3 separate regions of the Homo sapiens genome follow, and regions 2 and 3 are each reported to be linked to region 1. Evidence: microRNA targets listed by miRTarBase, many of them from high-throughput screens and not tested one by one. Region 1 holds a microRNA gene; each other region holds the end of a gene's coding sequence.
Evidence for each region. Region 1 holds the annotated microRNA hsa-miR-8061 (CUUAGAUUAGAGGAUAUUGUU, at 982-1,002, shown strand). A microRNA usually pairs through its seed, bases 2 to 8, with sites in the 3' UTR of a target mRNA and lowers its output. Matches are read on the target gene's strand: a 7mer-m8 pairs with bases 2 to 8, a 7mer-A1 pairs with bases 2 to 7 and ends in A, and an 8mer does both.

Region 1 (3,265 bases):
CTGTGGTCTCGTCCATCTGCACAGCCAGGGGCTGTGGAGGAGATGCCATGACTTCCACCCGCAAACCTCTGATCTGTCTTGATGAAATTGAAAGAGGGAGAGGGGAGACTGTAGCCTGGAAGGAATCCCACCTCACAACTTGGTCCTGATTGAATAGAAGACCCCAGAGGTTCACAGAGATCCCAAGGTGGGGAGGATCTGCCCAGGGTTCAGGAGGCGAATCTCCCTCAGGAAGCTCCGTGACCCCCTCCTTAGTGTCGCTCCTGTGCCTCAGTGGGATTTGGAGAGGATGCCTTAGATTAGAGGGTATTGTTCAGTGGGATTTGGAGAGGATGCCTTAGATTAGAGAGTATTGTTCAGTGGGATTTGGAAAAGATGCCTTAGATTAGAGGGTATTGTTCAGTGGGATTTGGAGAGGATGCCTTAGATTAGAGGGTATTGTTCAGTGGGATTTGGAGAGGATGCCTTAGATTAGAGGATATTGTTCAGTGGGATTTGGAGAGGATGCCTTAGATTAGAAGGTATTGTTCAGTGGGATTTGGAGAGGATGCCTTAGATTAGAGGGTATTGTTCAGTGGGATTTGGAGAGGATGCCTTAGATTAGAGGATATTGTTCAGTGGGATTTGGAGAGGATGCCTTAGATTAGAGGGTATTGTTCAGTGGGATTTGGAGAGGATGCCTTAGATTAGAGGATATTGTTCAGTGGGATTTGGAGAGGATGCCTTAGATTAGAGGGTATTGTTCAGTGGGATTTGGAGAGGATGCCTTAGATTAGAGGGTATTGTTCAGTGGGATTTGGAGAGGATGCCTTAGATTAGAGGATATTGTTCAGTGGGATTTGGAGAGGATGCCTTAGATTAGAGGATATTGTTCAGTGGGATTTGGAGAGGATGCCTTAGATTAGAGGGTATTGTTCAGTGGGATTTGGAGAGGATGCCTTAGATTAGAGGATATTGTTCAGTGGGATTTGGAGAGGATGCCTTAGATTAGAGGATATTGTTCAGTGGGATTTGGAGAGGACGCCTTAGATTAGAGGTATTGTTCAGTGGGATTAGGAGAGGACACCTTAGATTAGAGGGTATTGTTCAGTGGGATTTGGAGAGGATGCCTTAGATTAGAGGGTATTGTGTCTTTCAGCAACAAAACCGTACAAAAAACACCTGGGCATTTCACATCAGTGGATAAAGCATATCTTGTGCCAAATCAGGACCAAACTGCGGTGAAATTTAGGGTTCACACTACAGTTAATCACTTTTGAGGAAAGCATTCCAGGTTGGTGCCTATCTCTGTGATAAACATCTCCCTTCCTGGCTACAGGTAATGGATTAAAGTAACACTGGCCGAACAGACACTATCTTCACTTGATGATTATACTGAAAAATAGCCATAAAATTGTTCCCTCCAAATCCAATTCCCCTTTTGACTTTAGACAATTCTCTAAAGAAGATATACAAATGGCCAACAAACATATAAAAAACATGTATATATGCGTATATATACATATATATACACACACACACACACACACACACACACACACACACCATGGAATACTTCAGTCATAAAAAGGAACAAAATAATGGCATTCGCAGCAACCTGGAGGCAGTTGGAGACCACTATTCTAAGTGAAATAACTCAGGAATGGAAAACCATCATCATATGTTCTCATAAGTGGGAGCTAAGCTATGAGGATGTAAAGGCATAAGAAGGATATAATGGACTCTGGGGACCCAGGGGGAGCAATGGGAGGGGGTGAGGGATAAAAGACTACGCATTGGGTACAGTGTACACTGCTCGGGTGATGGGTGTTCCAAAATCTCAAAAATCACCACTAAAGAACTTATGCATGCAACCAAACACCACCTGTTCCCCCAAAACTACTGAAACTTAAAAATAAATAAATAGATAAAAATAAATTCACCACATTCAAAATGACAACCGCTGAAGCCCCAGTGGGCGCATGTTACAGGGTGCTCTTTTAGTTTCGGCCTTCCATAGGCAACTTGTGTGTATCAGCTCCATTAGACCCCTGCCTTCCTGCAAGGACAGACGGCTCTCTGTATCCCAGGGTTCTCGCCTTGGTGTACCGGAAGAACCGGATCACATGAGGGCTTGGAGAATGAGTGCAAGGTTTGATTGAGTGGAAACAGCTCTCAGCAGAAGGGCGATGGTTTTCTCCTGGAGTCGGGCCCCTGGCGGCCCGGGATCCTCTCTGACTGTCCCAGCCAAGCTCCATGTCGTTCTGCCAGTCGGTGGCCTGTGGTGTGCTGGTGCCCGTCCTTGCGTTCCTCTCGACATCCAGCCATCTGTGTGTTCCTGCACTGACGTGCTCCTCTCAGCCGCCAGTGTCTTCTTCTTCCGCTGATCTGCGGACGTCCAGCTGCTTGTGTGTCTGCCTGCTCAGGTCTCGGAGTTGTTTTTTTTGTTTGTTTGTTTGTTTTTTAATTATACTTTAAGTTTTAGGGTACATGTGCACAATGTGCAGGTTAGTTACATATGTATACATGTGCCATGTTGGTGTGCTGCACCCATTATCTCGTCATTTAACGTTAGGTATATCTCCTAAAGCTATCCCTCCCCACCCGCCACCCCACAACAGGCCCCGGTGTGTGATGTTCCCCTTCCTGTGTCCATGTGTTCTCATTGTTCAATTCCCACCTATGAGTGAGAACATGCGGTGTTTGGTTTTTCGTCCTTGCAATAGTTTGCTGAGAATGATGGTTTCCAATTTCATCCATGTCCCTACAAAGGACATGAACTCATCATTTTTTATGGCTGCATAGTATTCCATGGTGTATATGTGCCACATTTTCTTAATCCAGTCTATCATCGTTGGACATTTGGCTTGGTTCCAAGTGTTTGCTATTGTGAATAGTGCCACAATATAGTTCAACCATTGTGGAAGTCAATGTGGTGATTCCTCAGGGATCTAGAACTAGAAATACCATATATTAATCACCTCAGTTAGTTATTATTTCTGTGTGCATGTGTGTGTGCAGTGAAAATACTTAGGATCTACTCTCAGCTAATTTTAAGTGTACAATACAGTATTGTTACCTATAGCTTTCATTCCATACATTAGCTTTCCAGAATTATTCATTTCGGAGAATTGAAACTTTGTATCCTTTGACCAACATCTTATTTTTCCCATTTCCAGCCCCTGCTAACCACCATTCTACTCTCAGCTTCTATGAATTTCACTATTTAGATTCCACAATTATGTGAGATTATAAGATATTTATCTATTAAGAGTTGGATTCATTT
Region 2 (3,265 bases), not on the chromosome of region 1:
GGTTTCACCATGTTGGCCAGGCTAAGATTATTTATAATAGTCTTATAAATGTGTGTTTGTATAAGGGACCACCTGGAGGGTGTGGCGGACCTGCCTGAAATGTTAGATCAGGGATCTGATGGAAAGGGAACTTGGATGGAATTCGGAAGAAGCCATCTTTTATGAAGAATAACAGAGCCTTTTTCCCCTCTCTGCCCTCAAACAGATACTGACAAGTTAAAAAACATAATGCAGGTGGCAGAGCCCAGAGTCAGAGATGTCATCAACAGCATGGAGCATGCTATTGTTTCCCGGAGCCCTCGCATCCGCTACAACCCTGGCCTGGATGCCAAACTCCTCTACATCCCTCTGGCTAAGTTGCCCACCCCTGTGACAGATTTCATCCTAAGCCGGTACCTTCCAAGGCCAGCGGACAGTGTCTAAACTGGGGAGGATCAATGGGTCAGTGGAGCCTAGAAGTGGGGGAGGAAGGAAGGACCGTGGGGTCACAAAAGGTGGTATCGGTTATCCTGGGGGCATTGGCTGCAAAGGAAGCTTGGCTCAGCTGACACCCACTGCTGTCGAATTTACCAGTAACTTCTAACAGAAGGTGAATGCCTCTTCCCACCCTCTGGGACCCCACAGAAACCTGAGGTGGTCTTTGCAGGTTCAGCGATCTGCAGCAATAGCTCCAAGGACGTCTGTCACCCAATCAGGATACAGCTTTTTCTGGTCCTGGAAAAGTCATGGAGAAGAAAACCAGCTCCTGTGGAATCATGAGCCCCTTTCAGTTATCACTGCCACTGAGAAATACTGTGGGATAATCTTGCCTCCAGGAGAATCTAACCACCTTCCTAATGGGTCCCTCAATATGCATAACTTCATTCACATAACCCATTACTGAAGTATGCGGTAGGGCAGATAGGGAGTGCAAGATTAAATCAGACAAAAGTTTAAAATATTTTCTTTCTTTTTAGATTCTTCTATCTATAGGTTATTGGGATCCACATGAAATAACATTCATTTATTTAATCACCATTAATTTTTCAAATATTTATTGAGTGCCTACTACCTACCGGGCACTTTGTAGGTGCTGGGGGAATATAAAGATGATTAAATCATGGTCTTGGTTTTTTATTGTTTATTTTGTGTTTTGCTTTGCTTTGTTTTAGCACAATATCTAGTAGCTGAGTTAGGACAAACAGCGATAGAAGGAATAGAAATCAGAATACAAATTTTTAGAGCTATGAAGGACCCTGGAGGTCTTCATCCAATACTTCACAAGCTTGGCTGTACCTTGTATCACCCAGTCAATTAAAAAATACAGACTCCTGTGCCAATATTAGAAAATCTGATTCAGTAGGACTGAGATAAGGTCCAGAAATATGTGTTTATAACAAGGACCTATATGATTCTGATGCACCCGAGCAACTTGGAGCCACCAATAATTCCATAGAATAAGTAACTTAACACTCAGAGGGGGAAGTGACCTACCCAAGCCCCCAGTTTAGTAACTAAGACAAGGATAGAAATGAGGCATTCAGACTCCCAGACCAGGATTATTTTTCAGTTATAGGAAAATCAATTTCTCAAATTAGTAACACTGTCAAATAAGTCATTGAACTAATTTTTTTTAAAAAAAGACTTAAACTCCTGGGTCATATGAAGTTCTGTGGAAGAGACTTTTTTTTTTATCTTGATAAATGGTCATGTAATAAAGGTCAAATGTGATTTTTTTAACTAAAATATCTTTAATTTGGGTCTCTTCAACATCTGAAAATAATAAAATATAATCCAGGTACATCTGCAAAGACTCCAAATAAGGTAACACTCACGGGTTCCAGGGGTTAGCTTATAGATATATCTTTAGGGAGCTACTGTGCAACTCACTACAGTTTGTTGTTTGCAGCACTTCTATTCCTGGCACCAAATTCTAAATCAGATAGAATGCATTCAACAAGTAACAGAAAAACCAACTCACACTGGCTTAGACAATGAAGAGTGAGGGCAGGGCCCAGTGGCTGAATGATGGCATTGAGGCTGTAGGCTCTTTCTACTTCTTTGCTCCGCTGCCCACAGTTTTATCTTTACCCTTTGTTGCTGTGGTGTGACTGCCAGGCAAAGGGAACTCTACATTTCCTCATTCACAACTTAGAGAAGAAGAAAGAGCCTGCCTTTCCACAGCATTCAACATTGAAGAAGTTTCTTTCTTAGAGCCCTCATCATGTGTCTCCTTGAATCTCATTGGCCCAAATTGGTTTAGGCTTGTCCACCCCTGGCAAAGAGGTAAATTGCCATGAATTGCTTAGATTAATCACGGGACAGATGGGATGTTGGGAAATCAGTCACAATGTCTACTACCTTGGAAAATGCAAAACTCAGACATTATGCTGTTGAGAGGGTTGAACAAAGGTCAAAAATAAATTTTCTGAAGACACAAAAATTTACTAAGGGGAAACTGGCTAGGTAATATTTTGAGATAATAATTTACACTTTTTCATTCCTCCCTGTTTTTTTTTATTTCCCCTTCTTCCATTCAAATAGATAGCCAATTTGGTACTTCTTTACCTAGGGTGAGATGTTTGATGGGATAAAACACATAAATTTCCTGCACTTTTTCCAGCTTTAGTTTCCCCCAACCCTGATATATTTAGAAAAATTATAGAGTTGTGGGAAAGAAGTAAAACAGAATGTGACTTATGGGTGTACCAAATGACTCAGAGAAAAAGAGACTTTCCCCTATGACAAAGAGATTCACTCTGATGAGATAAGAAGTTGATGTTTGGGGTTCCCAGGACAGGAGGGACCAGGGCCCACTTTCTAGAGCACCTTGGGGGCACACCATGGGGAGGTGACAAGACTCAAGAGAGTCACAGCTACATTGTATGTTTAGGCAGATTCGACTTCAGATGACCTCACAGGAGACTCATGTGTCCCACCATGGCAGGAAGGTAGTAGAAATTTGCTAGATATAAAGGGCATGTAGACTGGAACAGCAGACACTAAAGTGGTAACCTTTAGAAGATAGAAGACTTAATTTTTTGGTCTGAGGGCCATCTCTCCACCTCATCATTAATAGCTGAGGTATTTTTTGAACTTATGAGCTGAGATTCATATATGCTCCAGAGTTACATTTTGGTTGATTTCATATTAGAACCATCACCTTTCTTATATAACTTTTGTATTTTCCTGGAGTTTTGAATTGCCTTTTCTTGTTCATTTATTCAGCTTCTTAATCATTTTTATCTCCATTTTTAAAGTAGGGGAGTAATGTGATCTGATCTAT
Region 3 (3,265 bases), not on the chromosome of region 1:
TTAAGTATTTTGTTAAGTATTATTCTTCCCATTCGACAGGTAAGGAAACCGGGAAATGCTAAGATATTAAGTAACAGTTGTAGTTCAAACTCATTACGTTGTATTAACTAAAGAATCATATCTTGATAACTACAGTAATATTCTTTCTGATAACACTTAAGGTGGAACTGAATTTGGGGACATAATTTCTTGATGAAACAGCAAGATTAATAATAGTTTAATTTATTCTAAAATGTCTTTTCAAGTCCCTGAGACTAATCACTAGCCACAGGAATACTTACACCCCGTTTATCTTTCACAAGTAACTAAATAGAATGCTGTAAGCTACACATAAGGAGATGAGATCATCTGAGTCAGTTTCACAATAGAGATGGATTCCAGCTGCTAGATAAGCTCATTTTGACTTGTTTTGTTGCAAATGACAAAAGCCAATGTAAACTGCAAAGGCCAAAAGACAGAAATTTATTGACTCACGTATCAAGAATGGCAGGATTGCCACTGGGCTTCAGGGACCAGGGTAACGCCATTAGCAATATCCGTTATCAGCCTTATTCTTTCCCACTGAGCCTGGCTGAACTACAGCTGCCAGCATTTCCTGGGCTTGCATTTTCCCAGCTTCGTCACATCTTAATTTCAAGCTGAAAAATCCTGGGAAGAGACATACTTCACTGAAGTCATTTCTCTATTCTACTCATTGTAGCCAGGCAAAATGAGATTAGGATTAGCTCAGCCAGAGTTAGGTGACTATCCTTGCCTAATCATTCTGCATATAGATGATTTATATTTGGACCCTGTGTCAGACTGGAGAGAGGAGGGTCATTTCCCAAAAAAGGGGAGTAACAGTCCAGAAGAATTAGGATTCCACAAAAATATCTTACGGATACATCTCTCTCTATATTTATCTATATTAATATATATCTTGTAGGTATATATAGTCATGTTTGGCTTAATGACAAGGATATATTCTGAGAAAAGCGTCATTAGGCAATTTCATCATTGTGTGAACATCAGAGTATACTTACACAAACCTAGATGGTATAGCCTACTACACACCTAGGCTATATGGTATAGCTTATTGCTCCTAGACTATAAACCTGTACTGCATGTTACTGTACTGAATATTGCAGGCAACTGTAACACAATGGTAAATATTTGTGTATCTAAACAGAGAAAAAATAAAGTAAAAAATGCAGCAGTATAATCTTACGGGGGGATTCACTATCATAAGTACAGTTCGTTGTGACCAAAACGTTGTTATATGGCACATGACTGTCTAGGGTGTACATATCTCTATCTAGGGTCTACTGTTAATAACTTTCCTAGTCATTAGACACAAACAATCTGGAGGGAGTTACTCACATTGGTGGTGCGTGGGAATACAGAGTGGTGGAGAGAAGATAAATTGATTCTGTTACTTGTGTACATCTTTGCAATGAAAGGGCTCTTTGGAGTCAAAGGGTGAAGAGTTTAAGCGTGCAGGAAGGAAGGCAGGGAGTGAAAATAGACTGATGGCAACCACCACTCTGGTAGGAATACTTAAGCCATGGGATTGATATTTAGATACACACACACACACACACATTTCAGATAATTTAAATTGGAGCAGTATTAGTCATTTCCAACCAAAGAGTTTTGAATAGTAAAAGAAATGCGAGACTTTTAGAAACCTTGTTTAGTCGGTAACAACATTCAGTAGATAATTAAGGGAACACACTGCACAAATTCATTTCCCACTTAGCCTGAATAAGCAGTTTGACTACTTAATGGTTTCTTATTGTAAGTTTTCCTATGGCCAGGGAAAACAGCTTTGTAAGTAGTCCATCTTTCTAAAACTGAGGTAACTTTCTAAACATTAAAAGTCTTTAGTAACATAGGGGAAAAATTAAGGCTTAATTACTTAGAAAACAAAATATCACAATTACAGGAGCACATTTAATTACAAAAATTATAAAATTATATTAACTATATGTAGTTTTTAATATCTAGTATCAAAATACCTTTTCTACTTTGGTAACTAAATTTTTGAGATTAAGAACAAACTAGTTCAATCATTCTCACATACAAAAATTTCATGTTTATATTTATTAAAAACAAAATAATGCAAGTTCTGTTAAAGTAACAATATATACACCAAGATAAATATTTGGAATTGTGGAAACAGAAATAGTAAAAATTTCAAATTTTTTCTCAATATCTTAATGACTTAAATAATTTAGCTTTTTTCAGGCATTTTTTGTTAAAAATAAACTTACTTAATTTTCAACTTAGGTCAATGTGCTTTTTTGCTTTTTTTAAAGACAAAAATTAGTAAAAATGGCAGGTACTAGGTTTGCACTAGCTAAAAAAATAATGTTTACAGTTGTCTAGATGTAACAATTTTAAAAACATACAAATTCAGTATGTAGTATGAAAATACATTAAAAAAACACATAAGGAACTATGCCCCATAAAAAATATAAATGCAACTTCTATTAATTATATGAATATCAAAAATTAAATATTCTGATTTAAAAGTAGCTTCTATAAAAGTCGGAGTAGTAGGCATTATTTGCTTTCCTAAATGTATAAATAAGAAGTATTTCTAGCTCAACTAAACAGAAATATCAGTATTTCTTAGCAAAAAATGTAGTACATACATGAAAAGGCAAGCATTGTCCTGTATTCAAGTTTTTGAGTTTAAATTCCATTAAAATGTTTCCTACAACTTGAAAGAACTACACACACAAAAGTAAAAAGATGAGGTAAACATCTTATACTCTGAAGAAAGTACTTAATACTCAGATATTCCCAATTAATCTGTATCTTAATACTCAGACATTCTAAAACAATGCTTTAAAAGGTCTTCCATAATGAGGATGATTGTGATAAATATCTGAACTACATAATGAACAGCAGGTTTCTCAGTCTTCTGAGTAGACAGTGATGCTCCTTCTTGTTATTACAAAACAATCATGATTAAGTTTTGCCAACAATATCGCTCCAGTGTGGGTTTACATGAGGCACCATGCTACAGTAAGAGCAGCTACGATGCCATTCAAAATCGCCATGCTATAGCCCATGTGGAAAGAATGTCCAGTCAGTTTCCTAGAAAAAAAGAAAAACACAAATCAAAAAAGAAAAATGTAACGTGGTATAACAAAGACACCAAAAGTTTTCATCGAAAATACTTATGACCTTGGAGTGTATTTCCCAAATGTTCACATATGAATACAAAACTTAAAGAATATTGGACATCTGCAGGATAAATAGTGGATAGATCTTATTA

Region 2: the mRNA of SDR9C7 is a reported target of hsa-miR-8061. Seed matches in the 3' UTR shown: 7mer-m8 at 819-825.
Region 3: miRTarBase lists ARL6IP6 as a target of hsa-miR-8061. Seed matches in the 3' UTR shown: 7mer-A1 at 1,556-1,562.

The regions. Positions count from the first base shown.
Region 1 is chr19:54,644,338-54,647,602 of GRCh38, forward strand. MIR8061 (microRNA 8061) reads left to right here and starts at 972; the gene lies at 972-1,046.
Region 2 is chr12:56,920,991-56,924,255 of GRCh38, reverse strand. SDR9C7 (short chain dehydrogenase/reductase family 9C member 7) reads left to right here. Exons shown (of 4, transcript NM_148897.3): 4 at 206-1,123. The coding sequence ends at 423. Among named protein-coding and RNA genes, the nearest start is that of SDR9C7, 12 kb to the left of the region's middle.
Region 3 is chr2:152,759,566-152,762,830 of GRCh38, reverse strand. ARL6IP6 (ARF like GTPase 6 interacting protein 6) reads right to left here. Exons shown (of 4, transcript NM_152522.7): 4 at 435-3,084. The coding sequence ends at 2,991. Among named protein-coding and RNA genes, the nearest start is that of ARL6IP6, 43 kb to the right of the region's middle.